Linked DNA regions of Homo sapiens: region 2 is linked to region 1. A link means that fine-mapping ties the variant in region 1 to the expression of a gene that starts in the linked region. Tissue or cell type: testis. Region 1 holds a variant in brackets; the other region holds the start of a gene. All regions are shown on one strand. Distances are between the middles of the regions.

Region 1 (5,887 bases):
CACTCATGGCCAAATTCATGCTACCTGATATCAGCAACTAGTTCAAAAATGTTTGAAACCTTGAGCCAACTCATCTGGCCCAGAAGTGGCTCCAGACTGCTGGTCTGCAACTTGCCTGGTGGTTTACACTGGGTGCCTGCCCTCCTTGCAGGCTGCAGTAGACAGGCCAGTGCACAGGCTGGGGCAGCTGACTGGCTGGCTGCAGGGGTGCAGCTGGACGGCACCCTCCTTGGTCCCCCAGGCTGCTCACGCTGCTGTGGCCCCCCAAGGGTGCCAAGACGCTGTCCCTGACTGCTGTGCCCACGCTGGTCTGTTCTGTGTGGGTCTCTTTCTGGTCAGAAAGAGCCGTGTCTGTACGCAGAGCAGCCAAAAAAGCAAAAGCAAATCTAGAAATGAATGACGACCGCCTGAGTAAATGAAAAACCACAGAGCACGTCAGAACACACTGCAAAGACCACACAGCAACATGAAAGTTAGCAGCTGCCCATCTGAGTGGGGACAGGATTGGGGTCACATTCAGTTGTACGAACCTCACCAAGGTCTTGTAAAGATGACAACTGAATCCCTTCACTGAAACCTTGGAGTGGGGACCACTTCTTATATCTCACTTTGACATCTGCACGTCCCCAACCACAGACACAATGAAACCGGGCTTCTTACATATTGTGGGGTTGAACCTGGGTTCAAGAGTCAGCCTTGCCACATCTCAAAATACAAGAGGGGAGTGTGCTCAGCCTGGCACCATCCAAACCCATCCGTGCCCAGAGAGCCGAGTGGGCGTGTGAAGGAGCTGAGGAGGTTATGGAGAGGTGACCCCACTCTGCACCACCACCCCCCGGTAGCTCTTTCCGTCTGTAGTAAGAGTTAAGTCCAGTAGAGCCCACAGGACATAGCTCCTATCCACCACCATGTTGGGGGCCTGGGCTGCGTAGCCCTTGTGCAGGCATCATGATAGGGCCATTCGCGGCGCCACCCCAGGAGCCGGAAGGATGCCAACAAGGCGGCCGCTCAGAGCCCCACAGTGCAGCTTGACTCATGGACACAATTCGGCACAAGGCCAAGCCAGAGAGATATTCCTAGAAATGCCTTTTCCAAGAAAAGCCCAGAGGCAGGCGAGCGCACTGCCACTTTGGTGCAGGACTGTGTGTGGGGGTGTTATTTCCAGGGAAGCTGATGACAGAAGCCCCAACTCTGGTCATTAAACTCCCTCCTCCACAGTGGGAAATACCCACAGTCCTGGTCCTTCTATTGCTCAACTGCAGTTAGAAGCAGAAGTGCGAGTCTGAAGCACTATCCTACCGCAAGCTGTTTCGATGAACACAAGTTCCCTGTTCCTGCTCTCCGTTTCATCGGCAGTTCACCTTTACGTCCACGCACAGCCGTGTGGAATAGGCTCAGTCCACAGAGAGCCAGCGAATGCTGCACAAGGAAGCACGGACCGGACCACGCTTGCGTTAGAAACTCACCAAACAGCGCCCGGGGCTATCATGCCCGCTCCTGCCCGCGGTCCTTGCAGCAGGGGCACCTCCAGGGAGAGGGGACTCGCAAACTGCCCAGTCACCCGCAGCTGTCTCCCTCCCTCGTCACAGACCAGCACCCTCTGCCTGGGTCCCTTCCTTTCTGCATCAAAGGCCAAGAGCCAGTGCCCAGATGGGCTCTACCGACCTTCAGAGAGTCTAAGAAAAGATGGTGGATGAGCTTGTACATCACACTACATGGTGTTCACTTTTGAGGCTGAACAACTACTTCTCACTCCAGGACTGCAAGATTTGGAGGCCTCAATCCCCACTGTAGGATCTAAGATGGTCCTGTCCTGCTCAAAAGGACTTTGCCTGTTGGAGTGGGAGCCCAGAGATCTGGCTGAGCACCTTGAATGGCAGCTGGCCCTACCCTAAAAGCCCATGGTACCAGACCACGCTATAACAGCAGCAAGGCCACAGGGACACAGGGTGCTCCTCCTTCCTGCAAATGATACAAAAGTGTATGTGCAAATGAAAGCAAAGGACAAATCCAAAAAAGGCAAGCATCCTTATATATAAGAAATCTATATTTTTATACATTACATATGTAAATATGTATGTTTTTGCTTAGAAAAAAAAGTTTTTGCTTGTTTTCTAATAGCAAATGAGTAGAGTATTCTATCTGGGTCCAGGCTCTGGAAGGTGGTTTCATAACAGAGAGCTGCTTCCTCTTCGGGCAGAAATCTGTCCACGGCCCCCAACCCACAGGCCCTGCCCCAGCACGCTTTCCAGCTGGAAGGCTGATGGTGAAGCCCCCAGTCCACCCAGAGGTAAGTGGGAAGAATGTTCCTCATCAGACAGACATGGTGGAGCTGCCCTATCAGCACACAGCATTACACACAAAACCAGCCCACGTTTGTATCAGTGATTCCCCAACTTTGATATTTCACGCACTGTCAACATTAAAAATAGAATTGGGGGATGCATATATTGTACTTTTCATTTGGCCAGATAAGGGCTTTTTAAAAGCAAACTAAAACAAAGGGCCTCTCTACCACTTACTACAACATCATTTCCCAGAAGAATATTTCAACAACAAAAAGAAGGACATAATCTAAGACTAAACGATAGTTCTTTTAAGTGGAATAAATGAAGTCTTATGGAAAACTGAATGCCACTTTCAGCTCTCATTTTCTCCTTGAGCAGGAGAACATCACTATGGGCTGGCAGAGCCCTCAGGAACT[G/T]TCTGGAAGCAGGACCACAGTAGTCCAAGGGCCCAACTAGCTCTCATCTTGCAAAAGTGCTCCTTTATAATAAAATAAAAGAAAAACGTAAATGAGAGAAAAAGAGAGTTGAAAGTACAGAAGGTGTCAGTTAAAGAAAATATAGACAAAAAGATAGGGAGATAGAATAAGGCAAGGACGTTTTACCGATGTTTTCAATATAGGCTCTCTGTATTGCTAAAGCTTCTTCTCCCCACAAAAACCTCAAGAAATTTACAGACCTGCTAGATTCTAAAACCACTGAATGTCACAAAGGCGCTACTGCAATGATGTATACCGACTCCATAGCCTGGCAGAGATCAAATGCCCTTGGACTTCACAGAAAAAGAAAAAAAAAATCTGTAATTACTTGCTTCATGATGTCAAAGTACAAAATGCCAATGTAATATATATTAAAGCAAGATGAGTAAATATAAGTTAATATGCATCTAACCATTCACTTTCAAAACATATTAATACTCTTTACTTGAATAGACAGAAAATATAATCATATTTCCAGAAATGCCTAGTGTTCATAAAAAACACTTTCACTTATATCATCTCACCTAATACTATAAAAAACCCTGTGAGATAGGCATTTTACAGATGAGAGAAGAGAGGTTAAAATGACTTTTCTAAGAAATCCCAGAGAGAAAGCAAAAGCAAGTGAGTATTTCCAAAGCCCTTAATTCACTAACCCATACCACGCTGGCCACTTGGGGAACACGCAGTGTGTGCATTTGATACAAACTCTAGGACGCCTCTAATCATGACAAAATCATGCAAAACACACCACAGTAGGTCTGTGGGGTTATTACAACTCTGAGAACTTGAACTTTTACATTTCCTGACTTGGCAAGGCTAGCTGGTTGGGGAACTGAGCTGAAATTCTAACATGTTAATGTTATCTCAAACTAGGTTTCTGCATTTTAAGTTCCTGGAAGATCAGAGAGGGAGATTTGAGAGGATAGAGGCCAAGACAGAAAACTGACCTTTCCGGGCAGTCTGCAGCAACTGAATGTCAAGTGACAACAGCTAGTCTCAAAGGTCACACATCTCTTACTAAGCATAACTTGCCAGAATTCCTGTTCGTGCAGGGATTTGTGGGGAAAAATTTAAGATATAGAGTGTTAAATTACATCAAAGCTGGCATTCATTTTTAAAATCTGTACTTAAGTTTAAAACAATGAGCAACATAGTTTTCCAGAATTTATTTTATCATTGAATAGAGAAACTCTGAAGCACCGAGAATTTTTTAAGTGGCTAAAGAGCTACTATTTCAAATTGTTTAGGTCCTGCAGAACACAGTTTCCAAGTGACAGGTAAGACTTCTTTTGCTTTTGTTAACTAGAGAAATACGAATATTTGTCGTCTGACCATCCTCATTGGTTGATGATACAGAAAGCAAAAGTTGATTGTCAGCACCTGATACTTGGTAATAAACACCTTAATAAATACCCCGAGAGAGGTAGGTGTTCTGCCTGCCAACTTGAGGGGAATCATTTGATTACATGGTGAAAATATGCTCACCATTAAAAAGTACACTATGCCTTCCAGTAGAACACTTGTAACAGGTAAAAAGAAACTCAAGCTATTTCATCGCCTGCCTCTTAACAAGCTGAGTCACTCAAAGTTCCGAAGTCAGCTCCACCATTTCCACATAACTTTAGTACAGCAAGCAATATTTACAGTCATGGACATATGTGTGTCGAAGCCTTACTTATTCACAAGATTTGCTGTTACTAATGGGTTAAAAATAAACGTTTCCCCCAAAAATCACACAAGAGCATGACTCCCAACAGCAGAGTGTCCACTTTTCCCCACCTTTTCATGAGCTACGGTCCTGACTTCCTTTTTCAGCTGAAACAGAAGTCTTACTGTCGTAGCTTCACTGGAGAGTGCAGCACGGCGCATCCTCCACTCACAAGCCCCAGACACGGCACTGCCACACCTACCTAACCCCTAAGCCCACCCACGTTTCTAGTTTGCCTTTGTAACTCTTTGTCATCCAGATACATCAAAGGCCAAGAGCCAGTCATCCAGCCAAAGAAAGAGTTACAAAAGCAAACCATAAACTTAACAGGACCTCTTCACATATTTGGGATAGGAGAGAACTAATTAAAAGGGTAGGAGGAGGTGAGGGGTGAAAAATTGCTTAAAGAGTAAAACGTTCACTATTCGGGTGACGGATGCGCTAAAAGTCCAGACTTTGCCATTAAGCCTTATATCCATGTAACAAAATTGCACCTGCAACCCCTAAATCTATACGTATTTTAAAAAGAAAAAGTATGGGCTAGTCCTTCAGCACCAAAGGTGACTGGAATTAGGCTGGTTTTGACAGATGATCTGAACTGACCCACGAGACCTAGAACTCAGAGAAGAAGCTGGCATATCTCTGTCTCCCCTGTCCCTCCATGTCAGCAGGTCTCTCAAGTAACTGAAGCAGGCTTCCTGGGCACCAAAACTTGTTATTGCAACTACCTTTTCTGTAACTCTCAAGATACATTAATATACGCTGAGTGAAAACAGACTCAGTTTTACAAGTGCTCAGAGTTCGCAGAAAACACCTTCACATACATGCCCTTGCCTCCAAAAACCCTGAGGGCAGGCATTTTCAGATGGGAGAATGGAGGTGTAGATGGGTTAAAATGACCTGCCCAAGGTAGGTGTAACTGGCTTTACAGTTGAGATTTTCTAACATCTACGCCTACTACTTACTTGTCTATAGTGCAAGGGGTCACTCCACGCTTAAATCAGGTCACTGTCACAGACAAGAGAGCACTCAGCTCCTAGCAAAGCTGAGAAGCACTGGGGACAGCTCAAGGACAGGTAGCCACCTGCACTGACAGCAGATGTCCAGAGCCCAGAGTGGGTCACATCTGAGTTTTTCTTCTAAAGAATCAAATTGCCAATCAGGTACTGACAAGTTCAACAGCATGTCAGAATCTCGGTTTGAGATAAGAGCAAAGCAACCATTCTAAAAATAGCCACCAAAACATGGGCAGAAGATTGCTATGGTCTTCAGAGAAAGGCAGTGGCTCACTTCCTTCCGTGTGCACCATGCCTTCCAACCACTTCTGTTTCTTGACACGACTAGTAACCAAGGAAGTTCTCTAATGCTGCTTCTCCTCCTTCCAGGCCTAGAGTGCTACTCTGTTTTCCTAG
Region 2 (5,887 bases), 130 kb after region 1:
TATCCCCATGTTGTGTGAGAGCAGGAAAAGAGGGTCTCCATCTTCGAGCTGAAGAGTCTTTCCCAGAGTGGATGTGCAGCCACCACCTGCCCAGGGGGTATTTTCCCAGAGCATCATTTCTACTCTACAAAGAATTTTAAATTTTGTGGGGTTTATTTTGTTTGTTTGTTTGTTTGTTTTTTGAGATGAAGTCTTGTTCTGTTGCCCAGGCTGGAGTGCAGTGGTGTGATCTCGGCTCACTGCAACCTCCGCCTACTGGGTTCAAGTGATTCTCCTGCCTCAGCCTCCCGAGTAGCTGGGATTAAAAGCATGGGCCATCAGGCCTGGCTAATTTTTGTATTTTCAGTAGAGACGGGGTTTCACCATGTTGCCCAGGCTGGTCTCGAACTCCTGGCCTCAGGTGATCTGCCTACCTTAGCCTCACAAAGTGCTGAGATTACAAGCATGAGCCACTGCACCTGGCCAAATTTTGTTTTTATATTTAAAAATACCTGGACATATGGCCAGGAGCAGTGGCTCATGCCTGTAATCCCAGCACTTTGGGATGCTGAGGCGGGTAGATCATTTGAGGTCAGGAGTTCAAGACCAGCCTGGGCAACATGGTGAAACCCCATCTCTACTGAAAATACAAAAATTAGCTGACTGTGATGGTGGGTGCCTGTAATCTCAGGTACTCAGGAGGCTGAGGCAGGAGAATCACTTAATCCGGGAGGTGGAGGTTGCAGTGAGCCAAAATCATGCCACTGCGTGATCTGTCCAGCCTGAGCGACAGAACAAAACTCTGTCTAAAAACAAAAACAAAAAACCTGGACATACCAGAAAATAAAATGCAGAGGTCATTAACATTTTTAGCTTTTCTTTTCTTTTTTTTTTTTAAGGAACCTTAAAGAAATGCTTGTGTTTAAGACAAACAGGCACTCCACATGATTCCCCTAAGCTCTGACGATGTTTATTTGGGTACAGCCTCCTCAGTTTATTTGCCTGGGGAGGAAACTAAGGCCCAGAGAAGTGAAGAGACTCTCCCTCCTCATGGCTCTGTCCTCTGCGAGGAAGAAGCATGGACGTTGCTGTCACTTTGTCTCCAACGCACCCTCAGTGCCTAGAACAGTGACTGGTACCACTCCCTGGCATCACTCACTAAGTGCAGGTTGAGTGTCCCTTATTTGAAATACTTGGAACCAGAAGTGTTTCAGATTTCAAATTTTTTTTGATTTTGGAATATTTGCAGAATTCATTCTGGCTGAGCATCCCTAATCTGATATCCAACATCCAAAACGCTCCAGTGAGTGCCTTCTTTAAGGGTCGTTTTGGTACTAAAACAGTTTTGGAGCATTTTGTATTTTTGGATTAGGGATGCTTAACCTGTATTTACTGAATAACTCAATTAATTTTAAGAGGCGAAAGGACCCATAAAGCCTCTGAGTTGCCTAGGAAGTGGCCACATTAACTCCAAGGATGAGGCGGACACCTTCTCGGGGCAGGATCGAACTGTTTCTGATCTTCAGCATCTGGCCCCATAAAATGAGAAGGGTTTTGCCTTGGGGTGAAACTGACCCTGGCATCTCCCTGGAGATGAAAAGCTCCTTATTTCCTAAAGATTCTTCTCAGAGCCAGAGGAAGTATGCTGAAATAGTCACAGTGATCATTTCTCATGAAGAGATATGAGTTTTACCCTCTTTTTAACTTTCTTCCTAATTTTTAAATAATAAGGTTGTATCACTCACAAAATAAGAATAACTTTATAGCACTCTGTATACATACATATATATGTGTATATATGTGTGTGTGTATGTATATATATATGTGTGTGTGTGTAAAGTCAGCAACAACAAGCCTTCCCCAAAGCGGCACACTGTCTGCATTTCTTCAGTGCCAACGTGAGGCACTTATGGGCATCCCCAGGGACTTGTGCGCCAGGCAGCTCCCATCGGCCCCGACGGCCAGTCCTGCCCACATGTGTGACATATATGGTGCTCCCAGACCTCCAAGGTTTGGTAAGAAAGAAAAACACTTGGACAACACACAGCCAGGCCGTGAACGTCACTTAGAAACGGGACCCATAAGAGCGACCTTCCCTGCTTCTCACGAGCCAGTGCATGCCCACACCAGTCCAGGCCTTTTCTTCTTCTACTGAGTGCTGCTTCCCGTCTCAGCTGATAGCACCACCACTCGTAGGTGAGTCCCTGTTCAACAGAACTCAGAGCTTTGCATCCATGGAGTGCCATGAACAAAAGTCACCGGTGTTTCTTAGGGAGAGAACTGCTTTTGCTCAGGGTCAGGATGCCCCACCTGCTTGGGGTGGGGAAGTTGAAGCTGGAGGAAGAGCTGGCTGCTCTGCAGAAGTTCAGAGGAATTGGAAGATGGGGCCAGGGAGGATGTGAGGAAGGGGAGGAAGGCAGAGACGGTGCAGGTGACTCAGCAGGAGGCTGGAGTCTAGAGGGAGAAGCTCCTTGACTGGGGTTGCTGAAGGGGTTTTAGAAATGAGGCTGTCAAAAAACATCACAGCTGCCTACTGCTTAATTTCTAGCTGACTCTGTGTTTCTAACCGTCTGTAGAGACTCCACACAGATAAAGCCCCTGTGCCACGGATTCTAGGGGGACGGGGCAAGAAGCCCAGTGCCAGGGTAGGAAGGAGGCCTTGGGAGGGGAGGCTGAAGAGTGAAAACTCAGGAGCAGATGCCGGGAGGCAGAAGTGACATCTGAACACACAGCCTCCGAGACAGTCCCTGGGTGGGAGACACTGAGGTTTCTGTTGTGCGCTGGATACGGCTTAAGCCTAATTTTACCTCAAATTTCAAAGGCCAGGGCGATCCAAGCTGATATTTGAGTTCCATTACCAGGCATATTCCTTACAACAAGAAGAATGTAAATTCTGTGGAAATTCTAGAACTTCTTTTTTACATTTAAACACAATTCCTTTGTTCCCATATCCTGAAATCAGTAAATTTAAGCAATTTTATTTTTCATTCTGTGCTTCAGGGATCTATGAGGGTCAACACATATTTATCACACGCTGACCTTGTGCTCAGGCCTATAGGAAAATGAACCTCCCTGCCCGCAATGACCTTAGAACCTAACTAAGGATATGGTTAAAACAAGCGCAGGATTGGGTGAGACCTGCTCAAGGGTCAGGCGCTGGTTTGTCGGGGAGAAATGTTGCCCAGGAAGGACAGGTGTGAAAGAAAGAGAAGATCCTGCAAGACCGGAGGGCCCAGGAAAGTCTGGGGGACTCAAAGGAGAGTTTCAGGATTGACCATGGGTGGACAGGGCTCTGCAGACCAGGATCTTTTCTATGCACACTTGGGGCCAGAAAGTTCTTTGTGGTGGGGGCTGTCCTGTACAATGCAGGAAGCTCAGCAGCATCCCTGGCCTCCACCCACTCAATGCCAGTGGCACTCCCTCCCTAGTTGTAAATGTGTGCAGACATTAGTACTTGTCACCTGCAGGGAAGAATCACCCCACTGAGAACCACATGCTGAGTCAAGGCAACAGCATAGGAATTGGAGCACGCAAGAGAGCTGGTCAACACAGGTGAGCTCTTGTGTGGGCCTCTCTATGGGCCTCCAGCCAGTCCCCAGACAACTCTGCTCTGGGCACCAGTGGCCACGTTCTCAGGGCAGGCACTACTGGTGATCATTCTACTCACACCTCTCTCTGGCATCAATGGCCTGATTACACACTGGGGATAGTAGGTAGTAGGTATATTTAGAGGGGCACAAAAATAACCGTGGCTGCCAAGCCAAAAAATTCAGAATTGCTCTCCTTAGTACAGGTTTAATATCGCTAATCTGACTTCAGAGTTTTGGATTAGGGATGCCAAACTGGTAAGTATAATGCAAAGATTCCAAAATCCAAAAAATCTGAAATACAAAACACTTCTGGTGGCAAGCATTTGGGACAACAAAGTGTGGTATATTTCTGATGAGATTTTGTCGTGTTTCAGAAAAATTAATTTGATAGTGATGTGCCCAATTGAATGCAAGGAAGGAGCAGGGTTTTCTGACCTGGTGATTGTGGATACGCCTCAGGAGGCTGATGACAATGAAACTGCGCCATCATTGTGTGGGTTCATTTGCTTTTCTGAGGAGGGATTCCATAGATTTCATCCGACACTCCACAGGTTGAGAGCTCTTGGATTCAACTGGTGCCCAAACACAAGACAGGACCACCAGTGCATATTTGAATAGGACAATCCTTCTGCCCATCCATCTGGTCCCTGCTTCCACTTCCCACAAGCAAACATCCAGTCCACAAAACTCATTGAGCAGCTGCAGTGAGCTGTGTGCCAAGCATGTGCCAGGGACTGGAGCTGCAAAGAGAGATGGAGGCCACAGGGAAGAGGCCACGAGATAGTCAGTTGTCTCATGAAGTAGAATACAGGTGAAGCCAGATTATCACAAGCCATGAAAACCTTCTGGAGGTGACGTCTGAGCTTTGTCTTGCCAGTTGATCTCGCTAGAATACATACGAAGTAAAGAGGGGCCTGGAATTGCTGGTGGCTGAGGAAATGGGAGAGGAAAAAGCATGCCGGACAGTCACGGTGCAGGAAGCCCTCATCACTACTAAGACTTACTGACTAATCGCACACGGGGGAAGGAAGCTTGGGTGGCCGTGAGTCAAGGATCCAAGCCTGGAAGCCTGCAGACAATACTGACTGGGGTTGGCAGCAGAAAGGGGAGGACGTTTTGAGTGGGAAGACAATGAGTTTTGGTTTTAGATATCTTGAGTTGAAGGCAATGAGAGGATACCCAGAGACTATTCAGAACATCTTGAGAGGAACTGGGAATACAGGACTGCTGCTGGGGACATGTCAGGGAAAGAGGTGGGCAGAGAGGAAATGGGTCTGTTTTCTCAGGGGCAGTGAGGGGCACCGTCGAGCCAGCCTTCCACAGCTCTGGTTTCTCTGGGCACTTTCTTTCATGGGCTTCTTTGTGGGTCACAGACATGTTCGGTGGGGAGAAAAATCTCAGTAGAGCAACCTTCATTAAAGTTTCGGGTTCCAGGTTTGAATGAGTAGTTGGGTGTTGAGCAGGATCCTTCCCCGGAGTGATGAGGGGGAAGGGATGTTCAAGCACTGGGTGGAGGGTAGGCACATTCTATGTTTTGATAGAACCTCCTAGTCACATTCACCCCCATTGTGATGCCAGCCAGTGGTCCTCAAAACGTAGTGTCCATGAGAACCACTGAGAGCTTGTTAGGAAAAGCCATCAGCTCAGCCCCACCTCCCTAGAGATTGTGATGTTTAGGTCTGAGGTGGACTCATATGGGTTGTGTTTGTTTGTTTACTTTTTACACAGTAAATTTGGCTTTGTGGAGGTCAGTGGTGGAGTGTGCGGGTTTTATGAATTCTAGCACAGGGAGTGGATTTGTGTAACCACCACAATGCATGCAGAAAAGTTCCACCAGCCCAACAAGCTCCCTTAGCTACCGATTTCTACTCACACCTGACCCCACCTCACTCCCTTGGTAAACACAGGGCTTTTCTCTGTCACTATTGGTTTTTTATTTTCAAGTCTGGAATTATACAGTGTGTAACATTCAAGCCTGGCTTCATTCACTTAGAATAATGCCTATGAGATTCATCTGAGTTATTGTCTGTATCAATGGTTTGTTCCTTTTTAGTGCTGAGTAGTGTTCCATGGTATGGATGGACCACAGTTTGTCAGTTACCCAGTTGAAGGACATCTGGGTCCTTCAAGGTTTTGGCAATTGGAATCTGCCTTTAAACAAGCCCACTAGATGATTCTGATGCAAATGGTCCCAGATCACACAGTGCCCTAGGTTGTGCACAAATGCGAATACTTTTAACTTTGGCTGATCTGATCAGTGGGAGTATCTTATTATCAGATTTGCATATTTCTGATCGTCAGGAGGGTTGAGAATTTTT

What was found. PIP is the estimated chance that this variant, and not a neighbour inherited with it, causes the effect.
Region 2: it holds the start of LINC03066, and the variant in region 1 is fine-mapped to the expression of LINC03066 in testis (GTEx, PIP 0.91).

What each region holds. Positions count from the first base shown.
Region 1 is chr6:336,741-342,627 of GRCh38, reverse strand. The region is part of intron 4 of DUSP22 (dual specificity phosphatase 22); the gene reads right to left. Among named protein-coding and RNA genes, the nearest start is that of DUSP22, 47 kb to the right of the region's middle. RefSeq lists an enhancer at 180-449 and a silencer at 3,429-3,628. The variant G/T (reference allele first, on the strand shown) is at 2,705.
Region 2 is chr6:202,531-208,417 of GRCh38, reverse strand. LINC03066 (long intergenic non-protein coding RNA 3066) reads left to right here and starts at 2,934. Exons shown (of 8, transcript NR_126020.1): 1 at 2,934-3,531.